2 separate regions of the Homo sapiens genome follow, and region 2 is linked to region 1. The links come from fine-mapping of genetic effects on gene expression. Tissue or cell type: whole blood. Region 1 holds a variant in brackets; the other region holds the start of a gene. All regions are shown on one strand. Distances are between the middles of the regions.

Region 1 (8,109 bases):
TAAGGGGAATTCTCTATGGAAGGAAATAAACTCTCTCGTAGGCCTTGAGGTCCTAATTAATGACAGGGATGTATGCAGAAAGTAAAGGCACACACAAATACTTTTTGGTAGGTGTGGTTCACTGGGGGCAGCACTTGTTAGCAAGTCCCAGTGTTGTTAAGGCAAGGGAATGGACAGTGTTCAGGCTATAGATTTGGTTGGCAAACGAAATGCCAAAACGAGTGGGTATGCTCTGTTTTCAGCAAAGAAATCACTGGGCTGGAAAACCCTCAAAATATCAATCATACAACAAGACCTCTTTAGGAAAACAATATTAGGATTTTTGCACATAGCCCTTTTGAAGTTAACCAGTTTTGGCTTAAAACTTGAAAATAAAACAAGAGTGCACACTAGATCAAGAGGTCTTTTTAAGCCACTTTTGATCCTGGAAGACCCCTAGAGAGAAGACAGAGCCTTGGTATTGTTAAAAAAAAAATTGGCCTCAGGATGGAAAAGAAAGAGAGCCAGGATTCTGATTTCTCAGTCCTGTACTTTCCCTCCAAGGGAGGGTGCTGGGCCAAGCTGTGGCTGGGAGGCCATCAAAGACTCCTTCTGTGTATTAAGATTTGGAATTTATTTCTGATGTCATGATAAGGACAAAAGAATCTTGCACTGTGTCAGGCTGGGGTAGCTGCTGTGCTCCTGATGGGGAGAAGGATTGGGTAAGTGTCCTCCTGGAGGGCCACCTCCAAAGCCAGGCGTTGTCTCCGGAACAAATCCAACTTTCACTTCGTAGCCTGTTAGAGAGTTTTTCCCCATGAATACCTCTGAACCCTCCTTGAACCCCATAATGTTTCAGCTAGCAATGTCACTTGAAGTTAACAAGTTCCATATGTTTGCCCCCACCACAGTGAAAGTTGTTTTTCCTTTTATTTCTTCTCCAATTGTCTCCTGTCCCTTTGCCCCATCCATAGTTCATTTGGTTGCCATCAAATTTGCTCTCCTCGTCTCATTAGGTCATTAAATGAATTCCAGCACCTGAAAAGAGCAGTTTTTAAGATTCAAGTTTTGCTGAAGAATTGAGGTAAAATATTTTGTGGGCAACTGAAGATATGGGTACAGCAATAAGTGCATTAGCTTCACGTGCATCCGCCTTCTAACCTGTTAAGCGGAAACAAAAGTTCCACGGGATGCGTGAGAAGAAAACAAAACATGTTTCAATCTCATTTTCAAACACTAAATTGCTATATAATGATAAGTGATAAAAATGCCTCTAATTTCCATCTATTTTTTTTTTCAATAACCAGCTGGGCATTTTTTAGAAACTTAGAATTCATCCTATTATGAATTCAAATTAGTGTGTTCTTAGGAAAGATACTAGAATGTGCCTTTGTTCTGTCAAATGAATTTATTTTTTAATGATCAGATCTTGAGAGTTTGCTAGAAAATGCCACTAAACTTCAAGATATAATTCTTCTCTAATATACTTTCTTATATGGATAGATAATTCCACATTTTTGTCTTTTAACCAGTGGTGTAGCTTAAATATTAGGCCACCGAAATTTTTAGAGAGGATTTCTCTCTGTTTGATTATTATAAAAAAACAGACCATGGCCTCCCAACAGTTTCTTTTTCTCTTCCCGTCCCCCCCTTTTTATATCTTTCTTCACATTTTATGTATAGGACTCATGCCATTTTTTATATCTATACTATTAGATCTTATAAGAAGATTCTCATTCTGCAAACTTTTATTAACTACCTCCTCTGGCAATAAATGTCCATACTTATGTTTATTTAATTGTATAAAGATGTGCAGCTGTAATAATGTATCATGTACAGCATAAAATGTACACAAAAAGTTAAATAATAGGAAAAAATGAAATAACATTTTAATTTTATTTCATATTATTTATTAATGATACAAGCTTTTTTCTTTTTTGTTAGTAATATTTTAGTGAGATCAATATTTGAACCTACTTCATTATTTAATATTTGGGATAAAAACATTCAAAGGTCTGATTCTTAGTTCAGTTAATTTTATTACTTGGTTTCAGTGGCTGCTTTAGCTGAAAAAAAAATCTTATATGGATACATAGAACCATACAGCAGAAACACATAATCATATCGTTATACCCTGCGTCAAAGGGTATAATGCAAAGATTTATATTAAACATTTTGCAAAGATTTACATTAAAATTTGGCAGTAGTTTCTCCATTTTCCTTGATGCCTTTCAGTTGTTCTTGCAAGCTAATCAGAATATGTTGCATTTCTTTTTCTTTTCTTTTCTTTTTTCTTTTTTTTTTTTTTTTTGAGATGGAGTCTCACTCTATCACCCAGGCTGGAGTGCAATGGTGCAATCTTGGTTCGCTGCAGCCTCCACCTCCCAGGTTGCAGCAATTCTCCTGCCTTAGCCTACCAGGTAGCTGGGATTACAGGCACACGCAACCACGCCCAGCTACTTTTTTTCAGTAGAGACGGGGTTTCACCATGTTGGCCAGGCTGGTCTCAAATTCCAGACCTCAGATGATCTCCCTGCCTTGGCCTCCCAAAGTGCTAGGATTACAGGTGTGAGCCACTGCACCCGGCTGCATTTTTGTATTTCTAAAAAATGGCTTGAAAGCCCATGGAGACTCTTGATTTGTAAGATTACTTAACCACGTTTAAAAATTCTAAATTTTCTGTATCTATGATAGGACTATTTTTATGGATGACACATAATATTTTCATTAATAAGATAATATACCTGTCCAAATATCTTTGTTCAAAATGGTCTCTCCATAGAACTCATTTCATTTGAAAAGCAATTAAAAGCAATTGCTTTCTCATGAGTTCACGGATTATTTCTCATAAAATCACAGATTAACAGTGCTTATTTTTATTTTATTTATTTATTTATTTTTTTGGAGACAGAGTCTCACTCTGTTGCCCAGGCTGAAGTGCAATGGCACGATCTCAGCTCATTGCAATCTCTGCCTCTGGGGTTCAAGCGATTCTCCTGCCTCCACCTCATAAGTAGCTGAGATTACAGGCGCCCTGCACCACACCTGGCTAATTTTTTATGTTTAGTAGGGATGGGGTTTCACCACGTTGGCCAGGCTGGTCTCAAACTCTTGACCTCAGGTGATCCACCTGCCTCGTCCTCCCAATGTGCTGGGATTACAGGCGTGAGCCACTGTGCCCAGCCTTATTTTGTTTTGAAATTCTTGTTACATGGCAAACTTTTGTATTTTTGGCTCCACTGTTTTCACTGCAATGGCTATTTTATGGTATCTTTGCAGGAATCTTTTAAAATGACTAGTTGTTTTTTATGGGGTTAGTTTAGAAGAAACAAATAATGCAATGTAAACGTCTACTTAAATGGGCATTTATAATCTAACAACTATCATATCTCAAATGAAGAGTGATGGTGGCACTGCCCACCTCTCTTCATTGATGAGGATCCTTTATCCTCGGGAGCACCTGATGACCCGCATGGTCATCAGACCACAGAAGGATGCTCTGATGAATACGTGATTCCATCTAAATCCATAGTAAACTCCATGATACAATACAATACGATACAAATTAGGCCTTACATATTAAATATGAGGCTTAATTTTTCTTAATCCTGAGATTAAAAACATTTTAGAAAATTAAATAATATTTTCTTTTTTGTATCTTTTTGGAGGCTTCTGATCCACAGGGGAAGAGAGAGAGAGACATATAAACCAATAACTGTATTCAACATGTAAAATGCTATGTACATGAAAAAAAGACTGCTATGGGAACTTGTGGGGGAGGAAGGGAGACAGAGGGCAAATTCCAGAAAGTCAAAGAGAGGAGATACTTTTGAGACGAAGTTGAAGAATAAATGGGAGTATGCTGAACCAACAAGTGGGCCAAGGACATTCAAGAAGACACAAGAAAAGAGAGTGTGCTCAGGAAACACTGAGGAGCTGGTTGAGGTCAGGATATAAGATGCCTGGGGGAGGGGCAGCCATGAACCTGGAGAGCTGGGTGTGATGCGGCTGTGAGGGG[C/A]TTTGCTCTGTTGGCAGTAGGGAGCCACTGAAGATTTTAAGGGGAAAAATGACCTTAGTGAAGGATATATTTCATTTACAAATCATGAACCATATACACATTTTATACATAATTACATTTTTGGCAGATGTGGATAAAATTCTGTTCGATCTGATTTAACAAATAATTATTGGCCATTATGGCAAGCGGTATCCCCAGATTTGGTGGAACAATTAAGCTGAATATTTACAGTGAAATACACAGATGTATGCATTTGTCCTTTAAAATTGTAATTTTCTGGAAATCTTTGACATCTGGAACAAATTCACACTAATATTTAGTCCTTAACAATATATATGTTTGGGGTTTATGTTGTAGCACTATGTTATGAATAAGGCAGTGTTATGACATTCTTCAGAGATCAATGACATCTAAGTTCAAGGCTGACCTATAGATATGGTATTCTATGCTATCATGAAGGTGACCATATTTCCAGAACCCCCATACACTTTTCTTCCTAACTGAGAATTTATATGTATGAAATGATTAAATCATACTTACATCCTGAAAGAAACAAAACAAAACCAATATGTATGTAGGCCAGACATCCAAGCTAATGAACTCTGAGTGTGACTTCCTTCTGCTGATGGAATATAAGCATCCTAAACCTATATATGCCATGTAGAGAGAGTGGCCTGTGTATGATGTGGCCTTGAGAGGCTAGCTTCTATTATTTGTGTCATTGTTTGGAAAAAGGTGCCAGGATGCCTTCTTGGTTTGTCAGTGAGAACATGACAAATATTTGAAAAGGCCCTTCTGTCATAAGAAATAAAGATTATTTTTATTTCTGATTAGAAAAGTAAAATATGCTTTGAAGAACAGCTAGAGAAAACAAAAAAGTATGAAAAAGAAAATGCAAAACCACCCCAAATCAGAATTTTTAGAGGTAACAATCATTAACACTTTATATAATCTTCTTCCAAATATTTTTCTATGCTATATAACATACACACTTATTCAAAACTAAATATATACTAAATATACATTTTGCATCCTACTTTTACAATTTAACATAATTGCCATTCCTTATGTCATTAAACATTCTTTGAAAACTTGTTTTTAGATGGCTATACAGTATTGAGTTTTATAGATACACCATAATTAATTTAAACAATTTCTAGTTTGGGGCATTAAGTCGATTTCAATTTTTTTTTTGGTATTTTTTTCCCCTGTAGTTACAGATAAATACATCTGGTGATTTATTTTCTTAGGATCATTTTCTAAAAGTGATTAAAGGATCTGAATTCTTTCAGATAGAACTGTTGAATATTTAAACAGAGTGATTGAAATTGTTCTCTGCTTTTGGCGGGAGCATAGCGAGGGTATCTGGATGATGAGGGAAAACTTAACTCCTTTTTTTTTTTTTTTTTGAGACACAGTTTCGCTCTTGTTACCCCAGGCTGGAGTGCAATGGCGCTATCCCAGCTGACTGCAATCTCCGCCTCCCTGGTTCAAGCGATTCTCCTGGCTCAGCCTCCTGAGTAGCTGGGATTATAGGCGTCCGCCACCACGCCTGGCTAGTTTTCGTATTTTTAGTAGAGACGAGGTTTCACCATGTTGGCCAGGCTGGTCTCGAAGTCACTCAAGTTATCTGCCCTCCTCGGCCTCCCAAAGTGCTGGGATTACAGGTGTGAGCCACTGCACCCGGCCGGAAAACTTAACTTGTATGTATTCACTCCTTCAGGAAATATTTATTGAGTGCCTCTTGTGCCCCAGGCTCCGCACTAGGTGCCAGCGTGCAGCAGGAAGCAGGAGAGCACGTTCACTGCCCTCCTGGCTTGCCTGCATTTACATAGACAGCAATGGCGATCCTGGTCTCTCTAAGTCCGAGCCTCTTTGCTCCACCCCCCCGCCCCCCCACCGCCATCTCTCCCCTCAGAGTGGTCCTTGGGGATTTCACTTCAGGGCAGGTTTATGGTGTCTTCCAGTCCTTGTTGTATTTAGCGCTATCTTGGGGAAAAGTTGTGAAGTATGTCTTTGGGACCCTGGCCTCTCCCTTCTGTACTTGAGTCCCCTTAATTCCCTCTCAGGCACCCAGGGACCTCAGAATATTTTTTCTCATGGCTTGTGAAGACCTGCTTTCTCAGAAGGAACTGATGATGTCAGTCGTTCATATCTCAACGTGGGTGAATTAAGACGCTGTGTTCCTTCTTCCAGGGGGAGTTAACTGTGAAGGCACTTAACAATCTCCTTATTGAGGAACGCGGGACTTTGTTTCCAATGGAGGAATTTCTGGCATCAGAGAGCAGATAGGGCAGAGGTGCTTTCTTCTGCGGCTCCTCAAGGCTCACAGCTTGCTATGGAAGCATCCTTGGAGGACATCTCCTTCCCTGCCCTTTCCATCAACGTTGGTTAATCCAATCTCCACCTTCTCTTAAAAGATTGACATGACGAGTGAGGAAGCCAAGGACATTGCATCCGCATCTTAAACTTAATCTCAGTACATGAAAGGGGCTGCTTTGGAAATAGAGCTTCATGAAACAGGGAAATCCCGTGGCCAGGAAACCCCTCGCTCCTCCCCACCCCACCCTGTGAGGAGTGTCTCCACTAGGAAGGAAATTAAATCAGTCTTCCAGCCACCAGAATTGAATTGGGATGGACTATTTCCTCTTTGGATTATGTTCCAAATTGCATTCCTGTTGCTCTGTTTGAAGTTAGAGTCAGAAATCATTCGTATTTCCCCTCTCTGAAGGAAAGCCTGCTGCAATGCTTATCTCATCGAGTTAATTGACCTACAAAGGGCTCATTCCTTCCTAAAAACACTCTGCATGGCTCTGATGGGTAAGCATCAGGCTAACACATATATATAATAAAAGTTCGAAAAGTTTGAATTTTTAGGTTTTAGAAATGGGAGCATGTGGTTTTCTCTCTGAGCCTCAGAGCTGGGTGTTTTTTCTGCCCTGGATTTGATTGAGGCTGATGAGAGCATGGAAGGGCCTACCCTCAGGTGGGGAAAGAGGAGGAATTTGAGAATTTGGCACAGAAAGGGCTCTCTTTGCCAGTCAGCGAACTGTTGATAGCTGGGAATAAAATGTGGAAGAACTGTTTGGCTTATGAAGATCTCCTAAATTTCTAATCAAGTATTTATTATTTTTTAAAATTTCAACTTTTATTTTAGATACAGGGGTCCATGTGCAGCTTTGTTACATGGGGTTATTGCGTGATGCTGTGGTTTGGAGTATGGGTTCCATCACCCAGGTAGTGAGCATAGCACCCAATAGGTAGTTCTTTCCCCAACCCCAAGTAGTCCACAGTGTCTGTTGTTCCCATATTTATATCCATGAATGCTCAGTGTTTAGCTCCCACTTATAAATGAGAACATGTGGTATTTGGTTTTCTGTTCCTATGTTAATTTTTTTTAAGATTATGGCCTCCAGCTGCATCCATGCTGCTGCAAAAGACATGATTTCATTCTTTTTTACAGCTGCATAGTATTCCATGGTATATCTGTACCACATTTTCCTTATACAATCTACCATTGATAGGGCACCTGGGTTGATTCTATGTCTGTGCTATTATGAATGGTGCAGTGATGAATGTACAAGTTCGTGTGTCTTTTTGGCAGAAGGTAGAACAATTATTTTTTTTGGGTATATACCCAGTAATGGGATTGCTGGGTCAAATGGTAGCTCTGTTTTTTTTTTTTTTTTTTTTTTTTTTTTGAGATGGAGTCTCGCTGTGTTGCTCAGGTTGGAGTGTAGTGGTGTGATCTCGGCTCACTGCAACCTCTACTTCCTAGGCTCAAGTGACTCTCCTGCCTCAGCCTCCCAAGTTGCTAGGATTACAGATGTGCGCTAGCACATCTGGCTAATTTTTGTATTTTTAGAGATGGGATTTCACCATGTTGGCCAGGCTGTTCTTGAACTCCTGACCTCAAGTGATCCACCCATCTCAGCCTCCCAAACAGCTGGGATTACAGGAGTGAGCCACTGTGCCCGGCCTGTTTTAAGTTCTTTGAGAAATCTCCAGACTGCTTTTTACAGTGGCTGGACTAATTTATATTCCCACGAACAGTGTGTAAGTGTTCCTTTTTGTCTGCAACCTTTCCAGTATCTGTTGTTTTTTGCCTTTTT
Region 2 (8,109 bases), 410 kb before region 1:
CGTAAAGAACTGACGGATCAGGGATGTCGGGAGAGGAGAAGCCGCCTCGGAAGTACCACTGGACTCTGGATTTCTAGGAGCTCTGGGCACCACTGTTGATGCATTTTGCTACAAGGAGGCAGGGAAAGATAGTCTTTGTTCCACGAAGCTCTGGGCTTAGCTTCAGTTCTATTACAGCCCCTTAATGACAGGGATACATTCTGAGAAATGCGTCTTTAGGCAATTTCATTTTGTGAACATGGAGTGTACTTACACAAACTTAGATGGTATAGCCTACTACACACCTAAGTTATATGGTATAGCCTATTGCTTCTAGGCTGCAAACTTCCACAGCATGTGACTGTACTGAATACTGTAGGCAACTGTACTGAATACTGTAGACAACGGTAAGAATTTATGTCTCTAAACATAGAAGAGGCACAGTAAAAATACAATATAAAAGATAAAAACGGTATACCCGTATAGAGCACTTACCATGAATGGAGCTTGCAGGGCTGGAAGTTGCTGTGGGTGAGTGAATGAAAAGGCCTAGGATATTACTGTCCACTACCGCAGACTTTATAAACACTACATTTAGGCTACACTAACAATAAGTTAATCTTGGCTTACTGTAACTTTTTTACTTTGTAAACTTTAAATTTTTTTTTAACTTTTTGACTCTTTTGTAATAATACGCCTTAAAACACAAATACGTTTCAGCTGTACAAAAATATTTTCTTCTATTCTTATTCTATAAGCTTATTTTTCCCATTTTGAAAATGCATTTATTTACCTTTTAAACTTTTTTTCTTAAAAACAAAGGTGCAGGCCTACACAGGGTCAGTATCATCAAGATATCACTAGGTGATAGGAATTTGTCAGCTCCATTCTAACCTTGTGAGGCCACTGTTGTAGATGTGATCCATTGTTAACCAGAATGTCATTGCAGCACATGACTTTATTACAGAAGAAGGAAAGAATGGACAGTGGGGAGCAACCAAGGTCTCTGTCTGCCACAGTTCCTCCACCAGCCCCTGAGACAGAGTTCCCCTCAGGAGGAGTCTGGTATGCGGACCCATGTACACATCATCTCTAGACAGAGAGACTTCAGGGCAGTTGTTGACATCGGCTTAAGAAATGGTGGGAGAGTGGCAGGCACTTGGGGATGCTGAAAGTATTTGAAGATAAATCCAGCCTCCCAGATCCGCCTGGAGAGAGGCATTGACAGGGCAGCCTGGCTGCTCAGAGCTACCCTACCCCAGCCTTGTCACTAGCAATATGTCTCTCCTTCCTGGGTCTCAGTCTCATTTTCCTCTTCTTTTTTTTTTTTTTTTTTTTTTTTGAGACAGAGTCTCGCTCTTGTCGCCCAGGCTGGAGTGCAATGGTGTGATCTCAGCTCACTGCAACCTCCGCTTCCCAGGTTCAAGTGATTCTCCTGCCTCAGCTTCCTGAGTAGCTGGGATTACAGGCGCCCGCCACCATGCCTGGCTAATTTTTGTATTTTTAGTAGAGACGGGGTTTCACCATGTTGGCCAGGCTGGTCTCAAACTTCTGACCTCATGCAGTCTGCCCACCTCAGCCTCCCAAAGTGCTGAGATTACAGGTGTGAGCCACTGTGCCCGGCTCTCATTTTCCTCTTCTATAAAGGAGAGTAATAACCCTACCTTGCAGGGTTGGCGTGAGGCTCGTTTGAAGTTATGTATGTCCAGCTCCTGTTCTATACTATCCACTCCCTAGATGATGGTTATTTTTGTTATGAGTATGATTTGGCCCCCATGCCCTCTGCTCTAACTCAACTCCCATCCTCTCCCTCTCAGGTCTTCTGACCCACTTGCCATTCCCTTATTAGAACATGAACTCTCTGCCTGGCTTTCCACTTCCCACTTTGCACACGTTGGAATCTTGGCGGAAGCACCTCACATCCCGTTGAACCCGGTACTCCTCTGTGATTCAGTTGGCCTCTGCACTTCTCCAGGAAGTTCTCTCTGCCACTCCAGGCCAGGTGAAGCTGCTCCTCAGTCTCCCTAGCAACCCACACTTAATTCTATCAGGGTTCTTCTTGCACCCTTGGGCAATTACTGAGTTCCTTGCAAGGCTAGTCCAGACTCTCAGTGTATAAACCACCCTTGAGGTAACTAATTCCATCTTAGAAAAACCCTCCATTTTATATTTCATGGGCACTTTGCTAACAAGGATAAGATGTTTTGCTTGACGAACAAATTTTAAAAAAGAACACAAACAAGCACACTCATCCACTATAAGTTCTCACCAGAGGACCCTCTGACTGTAAAAGAGCGAAGCCTTCAGCTTGGCTGTCTTCACTAACACCGTCTTGCAGTCACTCATGATAAGAACTCAGAATTTGCCACCGAAAGCTCTGCCACATCAAAGACTCTTCCTTGCAAGACCACCAGGCCCAGACCAGGACTCCCTTTGTCTTCTTCCCTCCCTTTGGACTGGTTCATTAACCCTTTCTCCTCTTCTTCGTCTTGATGTTAAATATTACTTTGTTGTGGAATGTTTAATCTACAACATTCGTATAGTGATTAAGTATACTAGTATGTATGGTTTGCAATATTTACTGACTTATGGAGTGGCTTGAACCTATGTGCTCTGACTACAGAGTGAATGGGAAGGACTAAGGAGAATTGCCTCCTTGGGAACTCCATGTAGCTCCTGGATTTTGTGATTGAAATAGCATTTAAAAAAAAAAAAAGACTGACATTGTGGAGAGATACAAACGTGTATGGACATGGTCATCTTTAATCTCTAACTGCTATGACACTCAGAGAGGTTGAGAGGCTCAGGACACTCCCCTTGTTCAAGGCTCTGCGTGAAGAGGAGAAGGAAGAAATTGTGCAATATTTTATTTTATTTTATTTGTTTCAGATGAAGTCTGTCTCTGTTGCCCAGGCTGGAGTGTAATGGCGTGATCTTGGTTCACTGCAACCTCTGCCTCCTGGGTTCAAGTCATTCTCCTGCCTCAGCCTCCCAAGTAGCTGGGACTACAGGCATGTGCCATTACGCCCAACTAATTTTTGTATTTTTAGTAGAGGCAGGGTTTCACCATGTTGGCCAGGCTGGTCTTGAACTCGTGACCTCAAGTGATCCACCCGCCTCGGCCTCCCAAAGTGCTGGGATTACAGGCTTGAGCCACTGCGCTGGCCTAATTGTTCGATATTTTAAATGTTTAAATGACCGGCAAGTCGTAGGTGCTCAACAAATATTTGTTGAATGACAACAAATTAGCACTGTTGACACAAAAAAGGCAATGCAATATATGGGCTATTTAATATTTGCAGATTTTTATTTAAAAATCTGAATTCACAGTACACTGCAGGCGGTTGCTTAGAAGCATACAAGTTTCAAGAAGTTCTGTCACCCTGTGTATACTCTTTTTTTTTTTTTTTTTTTTTTTTTTTTTTTTTTTTGATACGGAGTCTTGCTGTTGCTGCCCAGGCTGGAGTGCAGTGGTGCGGTCTTAGCTCACTGCAACCTCCGCCTCCTGGGTTCAAGCGATTCTCGTGCCTCAGCTTCCCAAATAGCTGGGATTACAGGTGCGTGCCACCAAGCCCGGCTAATTTTTGTATTTTTAGTAGACATGGGGACCAACGTGGACCATGTTGGCCAGGCTGGTCTCAAACTCCTGACCTCAAGTGATCCGCCCACCTTGACCTCCCAAAGTGCTAGGATTACAGGCATGAGCCACCGCCTGGCCACCCTGTGTAAACTCTTATCTGGAGACAACTGCCAAGTTTACATTTGCAGAGGTAAGGGAAGGAGAGGCCCTGACCCAGTGGCCCCCGCTCGCCCGCCTGCTGGGGAGATGGGGAGCTCCTAGGACAGGGGCCGGGTCCTCAAGATGTGGCATGAGGAAGGGGGTCTCACTGAGCCCCCAAGCGGCTCCCGCACTGCGCACCCCTGGCTGCGTCCCTCTGCCAGCCTCAACTCAGCCCTCTCCTAGCCGGCGGGGGGTGACAGTCTCTGTGATATCTTTCCGTCCCGCCGGCAGGCGGCGCCCTCCGGCCCTTGTTTCGTTGGGCCCGGACGGGACGTGCGCGCTCAAAGGTTGCCCGTCTCTGACGCCCGCATTTCCTGGTCTGGAGCCGGCTGAGCCACAGCAGGGTCGCCGCGGGGTCCCGGGGCCGTGCTCCCCTGCCCCTCCCGGGAGCGCGCGGGGCGGGGCGGGGCGGGGCGGGACCAGGCGGGCGAGCTGGGCCCTCGCCCCTCCCTCGGGCGGTCACCTGGGCACGGGCGCTGCAGGTGTCGGGGCCTCAACCTTGCGGAGCCGACAGCCATCGATCCTCGGGTGAGTGCGGGCGCAGGTGGAGGGCGCCCGGCGCTCTCGCCACCGGCGTCCCAGCCTCGGGGCGGCGAACGGTCCCCGCGCCGCTCCCAGCCTCCCTGGCCGGGCGTTCAGCGCGCCTGGGAGGGGAAGGAATTTCCTTTGCAGGAACTCAGGGGCTGGGGGTTCTCTGCTACTTAAGAGATCCAGGAGTGGAGCCCGGACGCCCGAGCCTTCCTGCTTCGGGATGGGGATTACCGCGGAGCCTTAGCAACTGGGGTCTGTCGTGGGTTTGAGGGCAGGGGGTCTGGGGAATGGGCGTGTCCCGCACCCAGAGACTCGCCACCCTCTCTCCAGGGGAGATGCTTTTTAAACATGACAAACCCAGCAAGGTTATAGAAATGGGTGTATGCAACTCTTCGCTCTTTCCTGGCGCCCAGAGGTGAATAGTCTCACACACACGCGCGCGCGCGCGCGTGCGTGCATTCATTGGGGCCGACTTTGCCTCCCCTCCCCTGGCCTCGAGCGTTGGGGACGGCGCCCCCGCCCGCGCCCGCCACTGGGATTAAGCCCCAGGGCCTTGCCCGGCTATTTGTTTTCCGAGGCCGTTGCGTCCGGGTAGGTTCCTGGATGACCATCCTGGCTGGCTCAAAATTCCCTCTAGATTACCTGCGACCACCCCCAGGAACCCGGAGACTGAAACTCCTTTTCTCACCTGCGCAGGTGGCCTCGAGGTGGTGGCAGGGCCGCCCCCTGCAGTCCGGAGACGAACGCACGGACCGGGCCTCCGGAGGCAGGTTCGGCTGGAAGGAACCGCTCTCGCTTCGTCCTACACTTGCGCAAATGTCTCCGGTAAGGGGAAGTGTCGCTTAAATCCCAGAGATAACCCCCACCGAGAAGCATCACAAAAGACATGAACGAGTGTTTAGCTCTCAGGATTGTTATTGCTTCGAGTGAAATGGTTTCTTGTGTGCTTTTGTGCATTTATATATAAATATAAACATATATGTATACATTTGACAAGCTCTAAGACCGGCACTTGTGATATCTCCAGAATAGAGTTATTATAGTTATTTGGAAATTGTCAGTGAGGATCAGCTTGGTTGCTATGCGAATTGCAGGGAGGAGGACCTGTGTGCAGTTTCAAAACGATTTAAGAGAAATTCGGTGGCAATACAAGGTGTGGACGTTGGTTGGATCCTGATTTGATGAATGTTTTTTAAAATGGAGATGATGCCCGAGTGCGGTGGCTCACACCTGTAATCCCAGCACTTTGGGAGGCCGAGGTGGGTGGATCACCTGAGGTCAGGGGTTCGAGACCAGCCTGGCCAACATGGTGAAACCCTTCTCTACTAAAAATACAAAAATTAGCTGGGTGTGGTGACACGCGCCTGTAATCCCGGCTACTCGGGAAGGCTGAGGTAGGAGAATCGCTTGAACCCGGGAGGCGGAGGTTGCAGTAAGCCGAGATGGCGCCACTGCACTCCAGCCTGGGAGGCAGAGCGAGACTCCGTCTCAAAATAAATAAATAAATAAGGAGACGATGAAGGACATTTCTACTGATTATTTGATGGTATCAAGGAAATTATAATAGTTCTGTTTAGTTACTTTTGGTAACGGTATCCTGATTAAGGTTTTTAAAATCCCTGTAGAGACACAGACTGAAGTTGAAATACAGCTTTGGGATTTGCTTCAGAATTATTCAGTTTTAGATGCTAGCAGAGAAGGGAGGGGAACAAGATGAGAGGAGATTGTTCATGGATTGTTAATAGTTGAAGCTGGGAAGAACACATGGACACAGGCAGGGGAACTTCAGGCACGGGGGCCTGTCGGAGGGTGGGGGGAAAGGGGAGGGAGAGCACTAGGACAAATACCTAATGCATGCAGGGCTTAAAACCTAGATGACGGGTTGATAGGTGCAGCAAAACACCATGGCACATGTATACCTATTAACAAACCTGCACATTCAGCACCTGTATCCCAGAACTTAAAGTAAAACAAAAATAAAAATAGTTGAAGCTGGATGATGGTTATGGAAGTCCTTATGCTATTGTTTCAGTATTTGTGTGTGTTTGGCATTTTCCTTTAAACAGAACACCACCACTTGTGGAGCTTTTTTGCATAAGGTAGGTTTGGCACTGCAGCCGAGTCTAGATGCAAGGTCTTCCGCAGACGCTCGTTCTTTGTAAATTGGGTGTCAAGGCTGCTTCTCCAGACTCGGTCATAAAAAGTTTTTTTCTCCCTACTGGAGGTGCCGATTTATTTTGCTCAGAAGGCAGAGGGTGTTTGCTGAGTGTGACAAAGCTGAGCGGATCAAGTTGATGCAGGTGGAGGCTAGGTCAGCTTTTTTTACACAAAGGGCATTAGCAAGCCTGGGGGTTGATTGCCTCCGGTCGGGCGGATTGTATAAAACGTGTTAGCAGTTTTTCCTAATTGCCCAAATCCCTTCCAAGTTGTGTTCATCAAAAAACAGAGTTTGCAGTAGTGAACACACGTGTCGGTATGCACTTAGGATTTATGTACACTTCTGAAAGCATTGCATGCCTCAGTAAAAAGTGTATATGATGAAAACAAAGCACAAGATGAGTAGAGGGCTGCTTATTGCTTGAGAGAGAGCTTAGCTGTGTTGTGTTGCCTATTTCATCTTTATCTTGTTTGCTTCAGCGATCATGACATGTAAATATTTAGCAAAGCACTGACTCCTAAAAGTTCTGCATGGTGGTAACACATTTTTTTTAAGAATCATGCTTGAAAGAGGGTAAGGAAGGAGTAATAGCTATATCTTCATCAGGCTTGCTCCAGATTTCTTTTCTCCAGATTTAGCCTATAATTCCTACTCATTCTGTCATGCTTGGTCAGTACTTTGGAATAGTGATTCTGAGAGGGAGCTGTTGAAGTTAGTAGAGGGAGGAAGGGGAGGTATATTTCCAAAAGGTAAATCCACATTTTTTAGTCGCTTCAGTATAACTGAATGTAATGCCTTTTGATTTAAAGATAAAACAAGTCAAAGAGATGAGATCTGGGACAGTTAAAAGTTGAAGTGTTCGGTGAATCTCCCCGGCGTAGACCTTGCTCGTGTAGATTCACTAGTCTAAAGGATGTAAAGATTTTTTTTTTTTTTTTTTTTTGAGACGGAGTCTTGCTCTGTCACCCAGGCTGGAGTGCAGTGGCGTGATCTCGGCTCACTGCAAGCTCCACCTCCCGGGTTCACGCCATTCTCCTGCCTCAGCCTCCCGAGCAGCTGGGACTACAGGCGCCCGCCACCACGCCCGGCTAATTTTTAGTAGAGACGGGGTTTCACCGTGGTCTCCATCTGTTGACCTCGTGATCTGCCCGCCTCAGCCTCCCAAAGTGTTGGGATTACAGGCGTGAGCCATCGCGCCCGGCCGTAAAGATGTTTTAAGATTCGGTTGAGGAATGCTGAAGCATGTCCTAATTTCACTGCTGTGATGGGAAAATAATGAGACAACCAACAAAAATCCCCTTACAGTGGGGGGAGATACCACAGTGAATTCATGATGGTTCTTAAATGAAGTGAAATTGTTTGGTTTGTGGCTCTGTTTTCTTGGTATGAATGAAAGAAGTATGCAACCGTCACGTAACTTTATTTTATACCTCAGTTTCCTCTCTAGTTCCCTAAAAGCATGGAAAGAGAAAAGAAACTTGCCAGGCCCTTTAGTGACCAAACTAATGTTTACTCTCCTCTGTAGGAGAGTGGTAGATTTGGACTCTGGAGAGTTGATTGCTAATAGCCATTTTAAGGACTTACCACAAATGTGACACCATTTCGCCCTGATTCACATTATTAAGGGTATGAACGCATTAGAAAAGCAAATGGCTCCCTT

Evidence for each region. PIP is the estimated chance that this variant, and not a neighbour inherited with it, causes the effect.
Region 2: GPR160 starts here. The variant in region 1 is fine-mapped to the expression of GPR160 in whole blood (INTERVAL, PIP 0.99).

What each region holds. Positions count from the first base shown.
Region 1 is chr3:170,448,097-170,456,205 of GRCh38, forward strand. No RefSeq gene overlaps it. Among named protein-coding and RNA genes, the nearest start is that of SLC7A14-AS1, 15 kb to the right of the region's middle. The variant C/A (reference allele first, on the strand shown) is at 3,998.
Region 2 is chr3:170,033,928-170,042,036 of GRCh38, forward strand. GPR160 (G protein-coupled receptor 160) reads left to right here and starts at 4,068. Exons shown (of 4, transcript NM_014373.3): 1 at 4,068-4,288; 2 at 4,988-5,116. RefSeq lists silencers at 4,043-4,522, 4,833-4,882, 5,043-5,092 and an enhancer at 4,948-5,447.